Linked DNA regions of Homo sapiens: region 1 is linked to region 2. Evidence: fine-mapped expression QTL. A gene starts in region 2. The other region holds a variant in brackets. All regions are shown on one strand. Distances are between the middles of the regions.

What was found.
Region 1: its variant is fine-mapped to the expression of GPR183 in monocytes (TOPMed, PIP 0.98).

The regions. Positions count from the first base shown.
Region 1 is chr13:99,430,781-99,436,156 of GRCh38, forward strand. It overlaps LNCARGI (lncRNA antiviral response interferon signaling inducer), which reads right to left and starts at 1,970. Exons shown (of 2, transcript NR_197585.1): 1 at 1,607-1,970. RefSeq lists enhancers at 1,097-1,276, 1,287-1,366, 1,610-2,809, 1,817-2,546. The variant T/C (reference allele first, on the strand shown) is at 2,099.
Region 2 is chr13:99,305,011-99,310,386 of GRCh38, forward strand. It overlaps GPR183 (G protein-coupled receptor 183), which reads right to left and starts at 2,389. Exons shown (of 2, transcript NM_004951.5): 1 at 2,330-2,389. All of the region lies in intron 4 of UBAC2 (UBA domain containing 2), which reads left to right.

The sequences.
Region 1 (5,376 bases), 130 kb after region 2:
TGGAATGGTGACAATTTTGGTTTTGTTCACTTTAGTATTCGTGCCCGTTTTTCTGACTTTACTACATTGACAATGACCCACATTACAAGGTTGGAGAGAAGCAGTGATGGCAGGCACCCCTGTTCTCTTAGATTTCGCTGTTATATGTCTTAATCTCTGAGAGTCTCTGTAGCCACCCTTACCAAGTTAGGAATGAGGTGTTCTGAGCCTGGATTGCTAGGAGTTTCATCAACAATATTCACATTCGCCAAATGCTTTTTGGGGTGTCTATTGAGATGCCTGTACGACTCAGTGCAGTGAATTACATTATCAATTCCCTAATGATTCCTCCTGCTTGCGTTTGTCAGAAAAACCTGTTTGTCATAAACTACTCGTGTCCCACCCAGCGTCCCGATGAGATAAGGACTCCACAGGGACTCTGGGCTGCCCTAGGTTGCCCCAAATGAACAGGTGTCCAGTGATTGCAGAAAAAGAGGAGATGGTGATAGATATGGATCATGTCTTTGCCCCCAAAGAGGGCACATCCGTGGGAAAAAAGTCCCAAAGGAGCAAGATTCTTCAAAGAACCGTTGACCCTGTTGTAACAAGATGGAGAAAATTGTATTCATCAAAACTAACCTTGAGGAGAGGTCTGGATGCATTCAGGAGAAGTCCGTTGATTAATAGCTTGAAATGATTGAGCTGACTACCCAAGGAGACCCTCGTGTTGGGCTGAGAACCTGAAGGCTGGGCTGAGCGAGCCAGGACAGGAGCTTGGACAGAGCCTCCTTGTCTGTGGAGTGATGGGAGAGGAAGCAAAGAAGGAAGGCACAAAGCCAGAAAGCACAGCAGTAGTTGGGAAAAAGGAGAAAAAGAAAAGATGCGGCCGGGCGCGGTGGCTCACGCCTGTAATCCCAGCACTTTGGGAGGCCGAGGCGGGCGGATCACAAGGTCAGGAGATCGAGACCATCCTGGCTAACACGGTGAAACCCTGTCTCTACTAAAAATACAAAAAATTAGCCGGGCGTAGTGGCGGGCGCCTGTAGTCCCAGCTACTCAGGAGGCGGAGGCAGGAGAATGGTGTGAACCTGGGAGGCGGAGCTTGCAGTGAGCTGAGATCGCACCACTGCACTCCAGCCTGGGCGACAGAGCGAGACTCCGTCTCAAAAAAAAAAAAAAAAAAAAGAAAGAAAAGAAAAGATGCAAACCCTGGCATTGAGGCCCCCCCAAAGCCACCAAGGAGGGCCCCTGGGAGAGCGCGAACTCTGCTCCGGCTGCGGGTGGTTGCTGTGGTCTGTGCCTGTCACTCCCTGCTTGCTGAGGCTTTCGTGCCTCGGGTCCACTGGGGAGCAGGAGAAAGTGCCCAGTTCTGTCTGTAGAGAGGACGTCACTCAGGGAGAGGGGCAGGAGCTGAGGGCACGTGACTTACACCAAGGCTAAGGTGCAACGCGAAGGCCCTGACACCTGAGCCCCTGGGAGTTGAAAGGTGACAGGCTAACTTGGGGGATGAGCGGTAGAGTCCGGAGGTTCTAAATGGAGCACAAGTGGACCCTCGAGCGACCTGAGAATACAACCCAGAGGGCTCATGAACTGACATGGGAAAACAATGACATCTGTTTTCACTCACCTCTGGTTGAAACTGAGCAGTTCCTTGTATTATGAACATAGGTGGCAACCACTTAGTGTTAGCCAGCAGAAATAACGGGAAGTTTCATTCCACACTTTCGTTGTTGCCAGTATCTCAAAATGTTATTCAGGCTCATTGCTATTTCAAAATCCCATGGTCAGAGACCCATCCTCCCGGGTATCAGAAAGCATGGGAGCCCTGACCCTGACGGCCACCAGGCTGCAGGCAGAGGGGCATGGCCCACTTGGACCTGAGGGTGTGTCATTCAATCCAGCAAACATTCATTGAGCACATTCTCTGTGCTGGCCACCAGGTCCAAAGATGAACAAGGCCGAGACCCCGCCAGGAGGAACTCAGGGAATGCGACAGGCACAGATGAGCAAGACAATAGTGACAACGCAGCATGATTCATGCTGAGAGTGCCGGGGAGGGCGGGAGGCCAGGCAGGGTTTCTCACGGGAAGTCACATTTGAACTGGCTTTCTCACACTTG[T/C]GAAAGTGCGCCCAAGGACGCAGGACTTTCCTGAACCAGAAAAATCCCTGCTCGCGAGTGTGCACATCTCCGCTTAGAGTGCAGAGGAGCAAACAGCAGAAACTTCCCCCGGCTGTGGAGCCGAAACAGGAAACCACCCAGGAGCCCTGTGCAGAAGCGGCCGGGGATTCCCAGTTCCCCAGGACCCAGTGGGCGTTTTCACAGGAAGCCTCTCTGGGTGAAGCCCCTGCTGTACCCGTCCCGCTAGGGATGGAGGCTCCATGAGGTCACAGGTTGTTTTCTGTTTCGTTGGCTAATGAATCTCAAGCATCTATGCCTGGCACGGATTTGCTTTCTACAAATATGTGTTAAATGAATGAAGAAACACAACTGGATCCTTCCAAAATTGACAGGGGCCCAGCACAGTGTCTCATACCTGTAATCCCAGGACTTTGGGAGGCCGAGGCAGGAGGACTGCTTGAGGCCAGGAGTTTGAGACCAGCCTGGACATTGTATTGAGACCCTGTCTTGACAAAGAAATTGTTTTTAATTAGCTGGGCATGGTGATGCACATCTGTAGTCCCAGCTACTCTGGAGGCTGAAGTAGGAGGATCACCTGAGCCCAGAAGCGCAAGGCTGTAGTGAGCAGTGATTGCACCACTGCACTCTAGCCTGGGCAATAGAGTGAGACCCTGTCTAATTTTTTAAAAAATGCTGGGGGCAGCTGGATAAGGCAGGCCGTGGCTCTGTCTCTGTGTGTGGCACTTGTATCTCCAAATCGCCATGGTGCCCTGCATGTAGGTGACCTAGGAAGACACCTCCTCCAGGTCCAGCAGATGTGGAACTGTTTCATGCCATTGAGCAGGTGGAGTGCTGTTGAGGTATGGCTTACTCTGCCCTCTCCCGGGACCACAGGGTGCGCTCTCGCGGGGGTCTGGAGAATCCTAGCAGGTGTCTGAGCTGCCTGGATTAGGGATCTCTTTCCTCAGAGTGTGATCTGAGCTGGAAGGATGGGTTCCAGGCTAGTGGGGGAGGGCTGGGACTATCTTCTCTGGGAGCCTCCATCTTTGGCTCACAGTGGGTGGGCACAGGCACCTCACAAGGCCTGACAGAGGCCAGTCCCCGATCAGTGTAGGGAGAGCAGAGCATTGGAAACCATTGACCAACTTCACCTCCATCACTTCCAGCGAAGTCAGGGGCATACTGCACCCCCACATATTTGTAGGTTGAAGTCCTAACCTCCAGTACCTCAGAATGGGACTGTATTTGGAGACAGGATCTTTAAAGAGGTGATTATGATTAAAAAAGGTCCCATGACTCGTGTCCCTACAAGAAGAGGTGATTAGAACACAGACGCACACAGAGGGAAGACCACGTGAAGCCCCTGGTGGAAGACACTGTGGAGAGGCTCAGGGGAAAGCAGCCCTGCCCGCACCTTGAACCAGGTCCTCCCAGCTTCCAGACGGCGAGGAAATACATTTCTGTCGTCAGAGGCCCCAAGTCTGCTACGGTGGCCTGAGTCTGTTACTGCAGCCCTGAGTCTGTTACAGCGGCCCCGGAGACCCGGCCGAGTCTTCTCACTCAATGAACTTCTTCAATGGGCTCCTCAAGGTGACACCCACATTGTCACCACAAAGAAGAAATAAACAGAGCTGCCCTCCAGAGTCATAGGTCAGAAAGGCCTCGTGACTCAGGAGTGGGTTATCTGGGTGACCTTACTGCTCACTCAGTAAGAAAAACAGCCTTTCAGGCCTGCACTTCCCAGCAGCATAGCCTGCTCCTTCCTGGCTGATGTCAGAGGGCCCGAGTTCCGATAAGCCGCTGTTTGCTAACGTAGGTCTACACAGGTATAACCGCGGGCCCTGAGTCAGGTGAAAGGCCTGATGTCTGCGGGAAGCTTAGTGGGTTTTTATGTGAAAAAAGAAAAGTCTTACGCCATTGGCTGTCTTTCAGCAGGGCTGTTAGAAACGCACCTGGCTCAACAGCACCAAGAGGATGATGAAAGTAAGTCCAGTCTGGGAGTTCCGTGAGGGATTGGCAGCCAGTCTTCACATTTTAAATACATTTTACTTATTAACTGGAAATGCCTTGGGGAACTCTGGCAAGCATGCAGGGACCCCATTCTCTCCACCCCTCTCAGCTCACTGTTTCTTCATTGCTGGGCCTGTCTCTGCCTCCAGCTGGGCTCCACTTTTTTTATTTTTATTTTTATTTTTATTTTGAGACAGGGTCTCAATCTGTTGCCCAGGCTGGAGTGCAGTGGCAGGACCATGGTTCACTGCAGCCTCAACCTCCTGGGCTCAAGCCCAGCTCAGTCACTGGGACAACAGGTGCGCGCCACCATGTGGGCTCCAGTTTAACACGTCCAAACCTCCCTGTACCTTTGGGAAAGTCCAGGCAATTTCTTGGTTTCCCAAATAAGAGTCACTGACGGCCAAAACTCCTTTATCCTTCCCATTGGGGCATTTCCCCTACCATGGTCCACACTGCCTGCCTGACATTGTTAATGAATCCTTCGTGGGCCTAAGCCTGGCAGAGCAGGGCAGGTAGGGATTCCGGAGGTGCAGGTTTTGCTCTTACCTGGCAGAGTAGCTTCCCATTCTGGGCTTCAGTTTGCTCCTCTGCAGGATGAGGATCATAATAACAGCTCCTCAGAGGTCCTTTGTGAATATTAAGGGAGTCACATGTGTATAAACTGTGTCTGGGGTACAATAAATGCTAAAGGTCCCTTCCCTTCCATCCCTTTCCTCCCCCTTGATGGCAGGACTGTGGCTCCGCCTCCTGTCTCCCCTCCTCACCAAGCGCAGTGCTATGCACACACTGAGATCTGAATACAAACGTGCTGATGAATGGATTCCCTGACCTCAGCATGCACCCCATCGTGTATCACTCACCTGTATCTGCCTCAGCTGGGACTGGCTTTGATGAATGTGAATCTTTAAACTATAATAATTCATGCTCTTGTAGAAAGCATGGCACATGTTTGCAAACACAAAGAAGAAAATAAATATAGTCAAGACCACAGAGTCTGTGTTCCTCAACTGCCTTGAGCTCTCCATGATAATTGTCCCAGAGCATTTTAGAGTAACCGCTTGGCTTCTCAAGGCTCCAAGAAAAAGAATTTCTTTATAGCAGAGCTACATTTAATAGCTTTTTATCTTACAACAGATGAAGTACCTGTATATACCAGGTCCTGTCTCACACTTCTGCCCTGTGAACAATAAAAATCTCCTCCTGCACCAGAAACACTATTGTGAAAGCTGCCTGGATACTTCGGCCTCTCAGCTGACAATGAGTAC
Region 2 (5,376 bases):
TTATTAGTTTATTTGTAGCATATTTTAAAGTAAGTAAAGGTTTTATAAATGGATTTAGAGTACTGTTTTAACAGTATTTTAATAATAAAACAATTTAGACTGAAATTTCGATTGAAAAAAGATGGTGAATATCTAGAATAGGCTTTTATGCTGTTAATTGATTTTTAAACTACTTTTTAGATATTTGCAGAGATTTAACAAAATATTTTTATTCTTCTCTTTGGGCTTCCAAAACACCACAGCCATCTGTGTTACTGTCACAGCTTTCAGAGGATTCTCACATGTGTTATCTCATTTTATACAATGCCCAGACTTCTTGAGAAGGTGATAAACCCCCCAGACTGGAGAACACCACGCGTCCTCTACACAGGCCACGTCCAGGGCTGCCTAACAACTCCAGCAGGTCTTAACCATAGCAGAGAGAAAAGTATCCCTGTAAACGGCTTTATTAGGTGCGAAGCTCTTTTAAATGTAAGCTTCTTGAGGATGATGACTTGATCTCATCCAACATTTTATCCTATAGAATGCTACAGAACCAACCTACAATAGATATCTAGTAAATATCTATAGAATAAATAAATGAATTAAAGTCATATAGAAACCTGAGTTAATATTTATTCCATTAACTGACTGGTCATGGTACTAATTAGCTCTAGGAAGCCAGATGAAAGTAATTTATGCAAGGGATCATTACCATTGTCACTAACGCGATACATAAACATGTGAGTGAACATTTTGTGGAGTAGCATATTCTTTGTGGTTTTATGTCCAAAAAGTGCAGTGAACCCGCAGAGAGAAAACATGCTAAAATATAAGAAGTGTGCAGTCCTACCAGTAAGCACAGTTAGATGTGTGATCATCCATAGACTCAGGGCCATTTATTTATTTATTTATTTATCTATCGAGACAGAGTCTCGCATGGTCGCCCAGGCTAGAGTGCAGTGGCGCAATCTCGGCTCACTGCAACCTCCGCCTCCCAGGTTCAAGGGATTCTCCTGCCTCACCCTCTTGAGTAGCTGGGATTATAGGTGAGTGCCACCGTGCCTGGCTAACTTTTATATTTTTAGTAGAGATGGGGTTTCACCATGTTGGCCAGGCTGGTCTCGAACTCCTGATCTCAGGTGATCCGCCTGCCTCGGCCTCCCAAAGTGCTGGGATTACAGGAGTGAGCCACCACACCCAGCCTGATTCAGGGTCTTTATGTAAAATATCCATAACATATCTGTTGGATTCACCCTCTGGTACGTCAGTGGCCAGAGAGATGGGAGAAGAATGATGGGAGACAGTTTTTTAGCACTTATAATGAGAGGCAATGTTGTAAGGACTTGGCAGTAGTAATACTCCCCATTTTACAGGTAAAGCAGCTGAAGCCAGATATTAGGTAACTTGTGTGTGGGGGGGCCACACAGCTTGTAAATTTCATTTGATCCTGATTTCAGAGCCCTTGCTCTTATTACACTATATTGTACTCAGAGTGACACCAAAAAAACAAAATACCACGCCCCCCTCCCCCAACACACACACAAACACACATATATAAAACCCTCACTGCCCTTTAAAGGAAGTCTCTTCACAGCTTCTATTTTGCCAAGTTTCTGTTACCACCATTCCCAACCTGGACATAAATGTTGCCAAAGCACTGCATAGAATTCATTGTGATTTTTTCCCCTCAGGCACATAGAAAAGATACGTTTAGTCTAAGTAAACACAAGTATAAACCACACAACAGACTTTTTTTTCACTTATCTAATTAGTAGTATTTAGCATTTAAAAAGCAAAGATTGGTACTCTTTGCTGGCGGGAGGGTAAATTGGTAAAATGTTTTTGTAGACCAAAAAGTACCGTTTTATATCTAAAGCTTTAGAAAATATACCCTTTGCCCTAGGAATTCTACCCCTGAGATTCTATCCTGAGAAATAATCTTATATTTCTAATAATTCCTATAGCATAGGAATATTCTATATTAAAATAACTTTGTTCCTTTTCCTTCATACTAAGTTATCCTGAAATATTGGCATTATTTGCATAGTTTTGCTTGATACTGTCTTTTGTCATTGTGAGTTTATACAGTAGTACATGAAGTGAGCCCTATTTTTTGACAAAGATATTTCTGGTGGACCCATCGCTTTCAGTCAACTTTATAAGAACTAACTAGACCTACCAGTCAGCAGAGAGAGTAAACTTACATTATTAATATAATTTTTGTTAGAAGTGATGGTAGCTTGTTCTTAAATAGATTGTTTTCCTTTTTACCTTTTACCTTAAAACTTAGGCTTTTAAAGTTTTTCTTTAAAAAGTTTGTTGAAAAAGCAAAAGATCTTGTACTTACATATCAGTGACTCGTTCGGGTCTCTGTGTAGTAGCTGTGAGTAGTTGTCCAAACTGAAGTAAGTTTTAACTGTGGCATGTTGTTTTAAGAGAGGCTGTGCAGACCTCCTTTTATGGTGGTGACTTTTTTTTTCTCTGTCACCCTGTGACTGAGCATGTAATGAGCAGTTAGCCTCGTGTACGTGTGTGCACTTTGTGTTTTTTTTTGTTTTAAATGGGAAGTGAAATTTTTTATAGTGATTAAAAAAAACTATCCAAAAGCCCCTTGGAATTTATGAATTGTTGATATCTGTGGAACTTTATAAATTTTTCTGTAAAGGTTTAAGTATCAAAAAATTCTTTGAAAGAGACTGAAGCAATAAACCTTAACCAAAAAAAAGACCAAGTTACTGATGATTTTATATTGATTTTGCATGTAAAAGTATGGGTTTTTAAATGTTTTAAGGAAAATAGTGTCAACTTTGACAGTGCTTTTTACCTGGAAACTTGGTATCAGGGAGTAGTTTACACATTCCACCTTATCCACAGCTTATGAGAAAGAAACAGGTTTCTGTGGCGTGGGGGTGAGTGACAGTCCAGGATGTGGAGTGGACTGGATTAGTCGCCGTTTTCAGTCGAGAGGCTGCCTGAGTCAGAGGCTGTGTGAGTACTTGAATAACAGGGAAACAGTTGAAGGGAGGCCCATTATAGATAAAATCCAGCCTCTTCAGCACAGGGTGAAAGAGACTCATGCCATTCACCTCATAGTTGTAGTTGACTCAGTTTAAACCAACTAACGTGTCTGTCAGAATGCAGTTTATTTGTAGGCTAAATTACCAGATATGTAGCACTCAGATCAGGAGAGGTGATGTTTACACTTAGTCAGGACTGATCTGGCCATTCCCAGCCACTTCTGGGTGCTGCTTTTTACGAAGACATAGATAACACCTGTGGCAGTGAGGGGCCTGGATAGCAGGTCTTAGGAGAACTGATTAAATAAGCTGGGGATGTGTATGCTTTGTAGGCATAGGGTCATTATCCTTATGCTTGTGGAAACTCTCATAGAAAAGTGTTTACATTGCTTGTGTCAGTCTTCCTAACTCCAGAGACTAGCGGGAGGGTCAGTAAGAAGTTACTGGACATAGCTTTTGGATCAAAAGATGAGAGTCATTCCCAAAAGTTGTGATTATTTTGAAAAATGGAATATGCTGTTTCTTATTTAGATGCTTGAGTAAACTTGATGATTTTGAGGGATGATGTAAACAGAATTGAATCATTTGGTAGGAATTTGTAACTCTGTGATCTCAGAAGCCTTTCTGCTCCAGGATTCTGTAAAAATAGTCGAGTAGCTTTTGCCTCCCACAGATGTCATTAGGTTCTTCTAACGTCTAAAGTGCTGTGAGTATGGAGGAACATTGTCAGACACAAGAAAGAGCATCAAGCAAGTCAGCTGAATTCTTTGGGCCGCCACCTCACTGTGTATAAAATAAAGGTATTGAACTAAATGATCTCCAAGGTAATTCCTAGTACAAAAATTCTATGAGGGGGTAATACAGAGATTTTATGACTTGGTGGATAAACATGACATCATATTCTAGAACTAGTTCATTTAAAACTTAGGCTGCAGAGTACTTGAAGAAGACACTGTTGATAAATTTTTCAGTTTGTTGAAAGACCATTCTGGTGGGGTTTTGCCTGTTAATTTTGAAATAGTTATATTAAGTAAAACATTTTTATATAGTGAAGGACTCAGCTAGTTCAAGTAATTCCTCTGACAAACTGGATCTGTCCTCCCAACCTTCTTTTTTTTTTTTGAGACAGAGTCTCGCTCTCACCAGGCTGGAGTGCAGGGGTGTGCTGTCGGCTCACTGCAACCTCCACCTCCCGGCTTCAAGCAATTCTCCTGCCTCAGCCTCCCGAGTAGCTGGGACTACAGGCATATGCCACCATGCCCAGCTAATTTTTGTATTTTTAGTAGAGACAAGGTTTCACCATGTTGGCCAGGATGGTCTCAATCTCTTGACCTCATGATCTGCCTGCATTGGCCTCCCAAAGTGCTGGGATTACAGGTGTGAGCCACCGTGCCCAGCCCCTTTTTTTTGATATCAGAGTAGTCAGGCAGATGAAGAAGAGGTGATGGGGTCATTATCCTGTAAGAGGCCGCTGAAGCTGTATATTAGATCATTTCATGAGCTCACAAACCTTGTTTTTATTGCTGTTGAAAGTTACCAGGGTTTCTTGAGTTGTGATTGTACTGTAAAAGTAGAGTTGGCCTTTACAGTTTTTTTGTTTGTTTGTTTGGAGACAGGGTCTCACTCTGTTGCCCAGGCTGGAGTGCAGTGGCACGATCTTGGCTCACTGCAACCTCTGCCTCCTGGGCTCAAGTGATCCTCCCACCTCAGCTTCCTAAGTAGCTGGGGCTACAGGCACATGCCACCACGCCCAGCTAATTTTTGTATTTTTTTGTGTGTGTGTGTGGAGACAAGGTCTCATTATGTTGCCCAGGCTGGTCTCAAACTCCTGACCTCAAGCCATCTGCCCACCTTGGCTTCCCAAAGTGCTGGGATTACAGGTATGAGCCACCACATCCAGTGACCTTTTCTATAGAAGAAGTGAAATGGACATTTGCAACCTTAACAAGGTGTCTCTGTTATTTTATGTTTTCTATCGAGTGCGATCATGAATATATAGCAGTAGATGCTCAGTAAATATTAGTGATTTTAAAGGATGAATTAGCAATGGCTCACGCCTGTAATCTCAGCAATTCAGAAGGCTGAGGCAGGAGGATTGCCTGATGCCAGGAGTCTGAGATCACTGTGGGGAACACAGCGAGACCCTGTTTCTAAAAAAAGTTTAAAAATTAGCCAGGTGTGGTGGCACACACCAGTAGTCCCTGTTACTCTGGAGGCTGAGGCGAGAAGATTGCTTGAGCCTAGGAATTAGAGGCTACAGTGAGCCGTGATTATGCCACTGCACTCTACTCCAGCCTGGGTGACTGACAGATACCGGTGTCTCAAGAAAAAAAGAAAGGATGGATGAAATGTTTATAACCTGCTTTCTCTTTTCTGT